Linked DNA regions of Homo sapiens. The protein of the gene in region 2 interacts with the protein of the main gene of each other region in a pairwise test. Each region holds a gene or a part of one and is shown on either strand. Other genes may lie near its edges.

Region 1 (3,383 bases), on a different chromosome or scaffold from region 2:
CTGTGGCCCTGGCAGCTCGGCCCAGAGTCAATGGACTAGGGCCAGCCAGGGGACTTTCCGACAAGGGCCAGCTGGTGGTATTTTAGGTCTTGGGGGCCGTGCCGTCTCTGTTATGAGCACGCAGCCCTGACGTGCTTGAAAGCAGCCACAGACGGTGGTGACAAGCGTGGACATGCTCCAGGAAGACTTGATTTGGGGACCCTGACATTGGAATTTGCATCTTTTTTTTTTTCTGAGATGTTCAAACACAAGTAAATGTGAGATTAAGAGGGGGATCCCTCCTACCCAAGCTTGGGGGTGGGTCCAGGACCCTGGAAGGCCTCCATTTGCCATGGGGAGGCTGTGAATCTGAGCCTGAGAGCCATTCTGAGGGGTGGGTGATACCTACCTGCAGGCCCCCCCACCACGCCTGCCCAGGCCTGGTCCTGCGCTGCAGAGCCAAGGACGGGAGATGGGGTTAGACTTGGGGCCCTCACGGACCAGCCTCAGCCACCGAGCGCTCACCCCCTGCACACAGGCCTGGTGGGTGGGCAGGCTCCAGGCTCCAGGGCCCCTCCCAACTCTTCCTGTGGGCCCCAGGCCCAGGGCTGCCATCTATGACCCAAAACCTGCGAGCGACTCTCCTGGCCTGTGGGGATGTGGTGGGGACGCCCGGGGATGCGCTCAGGAGTTGCAAAACCTCATGAGCTTGCTGGGAGCGGGGCTCTGAGGACAGCCCATCAGTGGCTCCTGTGAGACCCACATGAGGCTTCCATTCAGAGCAGCCCTCCGAATGCCAGGGTCAGGACTTGAAACCCTTCTAGATGTTTCTGGGCTTGTCCCTGAGAATCCCCAAGACTGCTGGCCTCCCCGGAGGCAAGGGGCCTGGACTCCTGAGCCTCTGCATGCTGGACAAAGGGCCCTACCCAGTGTGGCCTGATGAGGGGTCCCTGCAGGAATCACAGGTACAGCCCACCAGCCCAGGGCATGTGGGAGGCCCAGGCATAAAGACTGGGTGTCACTGAAGGTCGGCACCACCCACTCCCCTAACACCCCGCAGGGGATGGGGGGCCCAGCTGCTGCCCATGGCAGAGGCCAGGCTTGGTGGCCTGACCCCAGTGAGAACCCCACGCACAGAGCAGGGCCCCACTCACACTGGATCTGCTCGTGCACCACCAGGGCGAAGTGGTCCATCTCCAGGATGTGCGAGAGCCTGCCCAGCGTGTCCGTGAGGCGGATCTGCAAGGGAAGCGTGGTCAGTGGCAGGGGGAACATGGCCCCACGAGTTTTCTGTGGAGTGAGAGGGGATGCGATGGTGGGTCCTGCAAAGCCCACCCGGGAGGCAGTGGCAGCCGAACGTGGGAAATACGTGGATTCGGGTGACGTCTCGGGTGTGTGTGTGAGATGGGAAAGAAGTCGAATTCACTCCTAGGTTTGGGCAGAACCCTCAGCCTTTCCAGTGTCAAGAGCCACACCTGCATGTCCCAGGGGATCCGTGTGGAAGGTCACACAAACTTTCCTGGGCCACCCTCAGGGCAGCAGAGGGTGGGTGTCTCAGGACAACCACGGAGTCTGACCAGCCCGGCAAGGAGCCACCGTGGGCTTCTCCCAGAATGTTCTAGCTCTTGTTGGATAACCAAGTGCATGCACAGGCAAATGAGGCTGGGCAGGAGAAAGACCCCGGCAGACGCCGCATGGTGCCCGGGACAGCCTCTGAGCGCGAATGACCTCCTTAAGTCCCCAAAACACGGCTGGTGTGGATGAGCCTGCACTGATGAGAGCCTGCTCTCCGGCTGCTGCACTTGTAAAGTGGGTGCTTCTCAGCTTCATGGTTTGAGGGGTGCAGCCAGCTTCGGCCTAAGTGGTGTTGAGGGTCGAGGACCCAGCACCCCCACACGGGAAGCGCGGTGTCCCGCCTTCGAGGCTGGAGTACTCTGGCACCCTCTGGGGTCCCGAAGTGCCTGAGTACCTGTTTGAGCCGCGTGTAGGTGACTGCGCACCTGTTTGAACTGCGTGTAGGTGACCGCGCACCTGTTTGAGCTGCCTGTAGCTGACCGGGCACCTGTTTGAGCTGCCTGTAGGTGACCGCGCACCTGTTTGAGCTGCCTGTAGGTGACTGGGCACCCGTTTGAGCTGCCTGTAGGTGACCGCGCACCCGTTTGAGCTGCCTGTAGGTGACCGGGCACCCGTTTGAGCTGCCTGTAGGTGACCGGGCACCCGTTTGAGCTGCCTGTAGGTGACTGGGCACCCGTTTGAGCTGCCTGTAGGTGACCGCGCACCCGCTTGAGCTGCCTGTAGCTGACCGCGCACCTGTTTGAGCTGCCTGTAGGTGACCGGGTACCTGTTTGAGCTGCCTGTAGGTGACCGCTCACCTGTTTGAGCTGCCTGTAGGTGACCGCGCACCTGTTTGAGCTGCGTGTAGGTGACCGGGCACCTGTTTGAGCTGCCTGTAGGTGACTGCGCATCTGTTTGAGCTGCCTGTAGGTGACTGGGTACCTGTTTGAACTGCTTGTAGATGACTTTGCCAACTTGGTCTGACGGCTGCACCTTCCCGGCAAGCAGGGACGAGAGCATGTTCCCAAGCGTCACCATTCCCAGGATTACCCTGTGGGACGGGGGCAGGCAGGGGTCAGCGCTCATACCTCACCCCTCCCAGGACGGTGGGGCACACGCTCAGCTGCCCCAGGGAGGAGCGCTCTCTGGCCACACATGGAAGTCCTCTGCCACGAGCCTACACGCGGCAGGAACCAGTCTGGGCCCTGGTGGGGAGAAAGAAACCAAGAGTCCTTGGACCCGTTCAGCCAGGGTCAAGGGTGACCAGCCGTCAGGTTTCCGCGACGTGGGGCTCTCAGTGGTCACTGGGCATGTGTGCCAAGGCTTTCTGCTGTCAGACATGTCCTCGGGGCATCTCTCCCCTGACCTCCAGGTGGGCCCAGGACAGCCTGCACACAAAGGGTGGGTGGGCTGAGGTCTGAGGGCCTGGAGTGAGCACGGCAGCCCTGCCCCAGGCTGCTCAGGGACCGGCAAGGGGCCTCCAATGCCCTGAACGTCTGTATGAGGCGGCCCAGGCGGGCCTATCAGCCCAGCTGCAGGGTCTGCATGGCTGCCCTGTCCAGTGACACTGACGGGGTGGAGCTGGGCAGACAGAACCCAGGACTGAGCTCTGAGCAGGGGCTGAGACTGACCCCGCCTCATCCACCACGGGCGCCTGGTCGAAGCCCTTCTCCCGGAGGATCTCGATGGTGTGCCCACAGGTGATGGTCGGGAGCACGGTCAGCGGGGCTGACAGGCCCAGCTCCTGAACACGGAGGTGCCACCACCTGAGGGAAGAGGGCAGGTCGGGGGGATCAGGATAAGGACAAACGCTCTCGCACCCCCGCCGGCAGCACCTCAGCAGGAGGCCA
Region 2 (3,811 bases):
GAATGAACTGGGGGCAGAAGGCAAGCAGGCCAGCACCTCCCAGAGGCCACCTCCTGGGCTGTGCCCCCCTTATGTAGGAAGTAGGCCCGCTGGCCACCCTGACCACCAGGGCCTCAGGCTGGTGCCTCACCATCAAACTGGTACTGGATGATGTTGTTGAAGACCTCCAGGAGGAAGAAGACCAGGTGGTGGTTCTGGGCGGCAGAGAAGAGGAACCAGGTGGTGGAGAAGGCCTCCAGCAGGTGCAGCAACTTGTTGGCAGTCACCATGGACAGGCTCTTGAGGTAGGGGGACACTGTAAGGGAGGGGTCAGCTCACTCCTGGGCCCCTCAGCCAAGCCATCCCTGCACATCCTGGGCCGGGGTGGAACAACAGGCTCCTGCTCTCAATCCCTCCCTGCCCCCTGCAGAGCCAGGACGACCAAGGCCCTAAGAGGCTGAGTCCACACTGGCCATACTGTGTGCAGAGTCCTGGGAGGCAGTTAGGCCCCACCCTCACCCCTCGACCATGAAGACAGCTGTCCTGCTTATAAAGCCATACACATCCCACCCATGCCAGTCCCCCCCATACCACGAGGGAGGCAGGACACAGACAAGATCATCCCCATTTTACAGACATGGAAACTGAGGCTCAGAGAAGGTTGTAAACTTGGCCCAAGTTCCCCAGTAATGAAATGATCGGGCAGGGATACAAACTCAAGACTTTAAATCTTTCTAGAACGTCAAGCTGCCATGTCACTAGAGGTGTATTTTGGGACCCAACCCTGGGGGCACACCCAGACTGAAGTTCCATGCTGATCTGAACACTTCCTTGTCTTGTGTCATTTTCCCTCACTAGGCTGAGGGCTCCACAGGGCAGGGACCAGGGCTGTCTTGGTCACAAGTGTGTTCTCGGAACCAGCTCAGTTAAGATTTGTGAGATGGAGCCAGAGAGTGAACCAGGAGGGGAAGGGACAGTCCTGACCCCAAAGCTCACAGCCCAGCTAGAGGCCTCTACCACCGCACACTACCCACCCTGCAGTCTAAACCAGAACACAGACAGACCAGCCACCCCTAGCCACAACCATCCTCTCCAAAAGATGTTCACACTGAAGGCATTTTGCCCCAGCCCATGGCCACCTGCCTTGCTAGGTCCTGAACCCCAGGGAGCCTGGCTCCTTCTGCTTCCTCTCCCCAGCAGCTGTGTGCAGTCCTTGCTGGGTGGGGGTAGGGGCTGGACAGGGAGGACAAAGGCAGAAAGGGTGGGGCCTCCACATCCCCATACACTGTGACTCCAAATGTCCAAACCTGCACTGCCCAACACAGTGGACATCAGCCACGTGTGGCCATTTCGTGCTTGAAACACAGCTAGTCCTAACACGTGTGCTGCACATATGAAACACACAAGAGGCCAGACACAGTGGCTCACGCCTGTATAATCCCAGCACTTTGGGAGGCTGAGGCAGGAGGATCATTTGAGCTCAGGAGTTCAGGACAAGCCTGGGAAACATAGTGAGATCCCGTCACTATAATTAGAAATAAAATGAAATATGGCCGGGTGTGGTGGTTCACACCTGTAACCCCAGCGCTTTGGGAGGCCAAGGCAGGCAGATTGCTTGAGGCCAGGACTTCAAGACCAGCCTGGCCAACATGGCAAAACTCTGTCTCTACTAAAAATACAAAAAAAAAAAAAAAATTAGCCAGTTGTGGTGGCACATGCTGTGATCCCAGCTACTTGGGAGGCTGAGGCATGAGGATCACTTAACCTGGGAGGTTGCAGTGAATGGAGATTGTGCCACTGCACTCTAGCCTGAGCAACAGAGAGTGAGACTCTGTCTTAAAAATAAAAAATAAAATAAAATAAAATAAATAAATAAATAAAGTAAAAATGTTATCGGACTACCAGTGGCTCCCATAAACTGGGCTAACCTCCTTCAGATGTCAAAAAAAATTGTTAAATTTTTTTTTTTTAAAAAAAGGCCAGATGCAGTGGCTCATGCCTGTAATCCCAGCACTTTGGGAGGCTGAGGTGGGCATATCATCTGAGGTCAGGAGTTCGAGACCAGCCTGGACAACATGGCAAAACCCCGTCTCTACTAAAGATACAAAAATTAGCCAGGTGTGGTGGCACACGCCTGTAATCCCACCTACTCAGGAGGCTGAGGCATGAGAATTGCTTGAACCCAAGGGGCGGAGGTTGCAGTGAGCTGAGATGGTGCCACTGCACTCCAGCCTGGGCGACAAGACTGAGTGTGAGAAGGGAATATTAAATATCTCATTAGTAATTTTCATATTGGCTACATGTTGAGATGATGATAGATAAAACATATTATTCAATTGTTGTCACCCTTTTTTTTTAATGTGGCTACTATGAAGGGTACACAAGCTTGCGTTCTTTCTGTGGGCTGGAGGGGCTTGAAACCTGGAGCAAGTGGCAGGTTGGCCTGTGGCCTGACACCACCTGGTGGTGAGCGCGGGGAGTGCAAGCTCCGGGCCCCTACCGTTGACCACGATGGTGAGCAGGCAGTCGAAGAGGGGCTGCAACCGCTGGTGCCCGCTGGTGATGATCTTGTGGAACACCTGTGCCAGGAGGGACAGAGGCACCGTGGGGTCCCCGCTGCCTCCAGACTCAGCCAAGAGGACACCACCCCTGCACCTCCTGGGCCCGGCCGCACGAGCCCCCTCACCACAATGAGCAGGTCGGCGTGGGTCCCTGTGAAGACTGGGATGTCCATGGGCACGCGGATTGAGTAGGGTTTGTTCAGCCGCACCCCGAAGTTCCGCTCCCCGCTCAGAAGCAGCAAGATGAAGACACCAATGTGCATCAGGCCCACCCGAGCTGCGGCAGGTGGCGTGGGAGGGGTCACTCGGGTGGGAGGGGGAAGGAGGGGCCCAGGCAGTGACCATTTTGGAGGCCTCCCTCCTAGGAGGTCAGAGTGCCAGGCCTGAGCTCCTGGGAGTCAGGGCAGATAGCCAGCCCTCCACCTCGCCGCCAGGAAAGCCCCCAGCATCCCACCCCCACCCTGGTCTTACACTGATCGGCCCGGGCATCGTTGAGGAAGAAGAGGATGGGGACAAGGATGTCTAGGACGTCGCTGCTCTTCAGCACGAAGAAGAGGAATTTCTAGGGGTGCGGGGAGGGGCCAAGTGGGCTGAGTTCAAGGGAGGGGCAGCTCTGCCCCACCCCCCTCAGTCTGACACTGTCCCTGCCCCCGGGTTATTGGGGCAGCTGCTCTCCATCTCCCTGCAGGGCCCCTCGAGGCTGGCCCACCTTGTTGAAGTCGCAGAGCTTCCAGAAGAGAACTAGCAGCTCCTGGTGGAACTGGATCTTCTTGGTGGAGTTAGGCAGGTAGGTCTGGAGCAGGGGGTTGGACAGCAGCCGGGCTATACCCTTGAGGATGAACTGGAAGTCCTGGGGGCGAGGGCAGAGCAGGGGGCCTGTCCAGCCCAATCCCTGCAGCTCCAGTTTCCCAGCCCAGGCCCCCAACAAATCCCCCCCTCCATCCCCCAGAGCCAGATCCCACCTCCAGAGCCAGAGGGCCCAGATGCTATCACCCATAGCTGTCCTGGGGCGATGCCTCAGGAAGCGGAGTCCCTCATAGCTGTGGACAGCCCTGGCCCCTCCACTAGACTGCAGACTCTCTGTCCTTGGGCTGTGCGCCCCTTGAGCAAGGCTGCTGCTCTCAGTGAACTCCCACACATGCACACCCTCAACCTTGTCCCTGCCCACCTTGGACTCATGGTTGGCAGGTTCCATCCTTCTACCCCTCCCCAAAATACTCCCCCATCACCCCATCACAACTCGAGGAGCATTCCACTGTTCTGTCATTTAC

Evidence for each region.
Region 1: the proteins of HID1 (region 2) and CBS interact in a two-hybrid assay, tested with the Homo sapiens proteins (one large-scale study listed by BioGRID).

What each region holds. Positions count from the first base shown.
Region 1 is NC_000021.9:43,055,670-43,059,052, forward strand, and holds part of CBS (cystathionine beta-synthase), read right to left. Parts: intron 3,300-3,383; coding exon 3,165-3,299; intron 2,739-3,164; exon of another isoform or gene 2,622-2,738; intron 2,585-2,621; coding exon 2,476-2,584; intron 1,219-2,475; coding exon 1,134-1,218; intron 431-1,133; coding exon of another isoform or gene 389-430; intron 1-388. UniProt on the Homo sapiens protein: Hydro-lyase catalyzing the first step of the transsulfuration pathway, where the hydroxyl group of L-serine is displaced by L-homocysteine in a beta-replacement reaction to form L-cystathionine, the precursor of L-cysteine.
Region 2 is NC_000017.11:74,955,662-74,959,472, forward strand, and holds part of HID1 (protein HID1), read right to left. Parts: intron 3,391-3,811; coding exon 3,250-3,390; intron 3,103-3,249; coding exon 3,012-3,102; intron 2,818-3,011; coding exon 2,666-2,817; intron 2,559-2,665; coding exon 2,480-2,558; intron 296-2,479; coding exon 131-295; intron 1-130. UniProt on the Homo sapiens protein: May play an important role in the development of cancers in a broad range of tissues.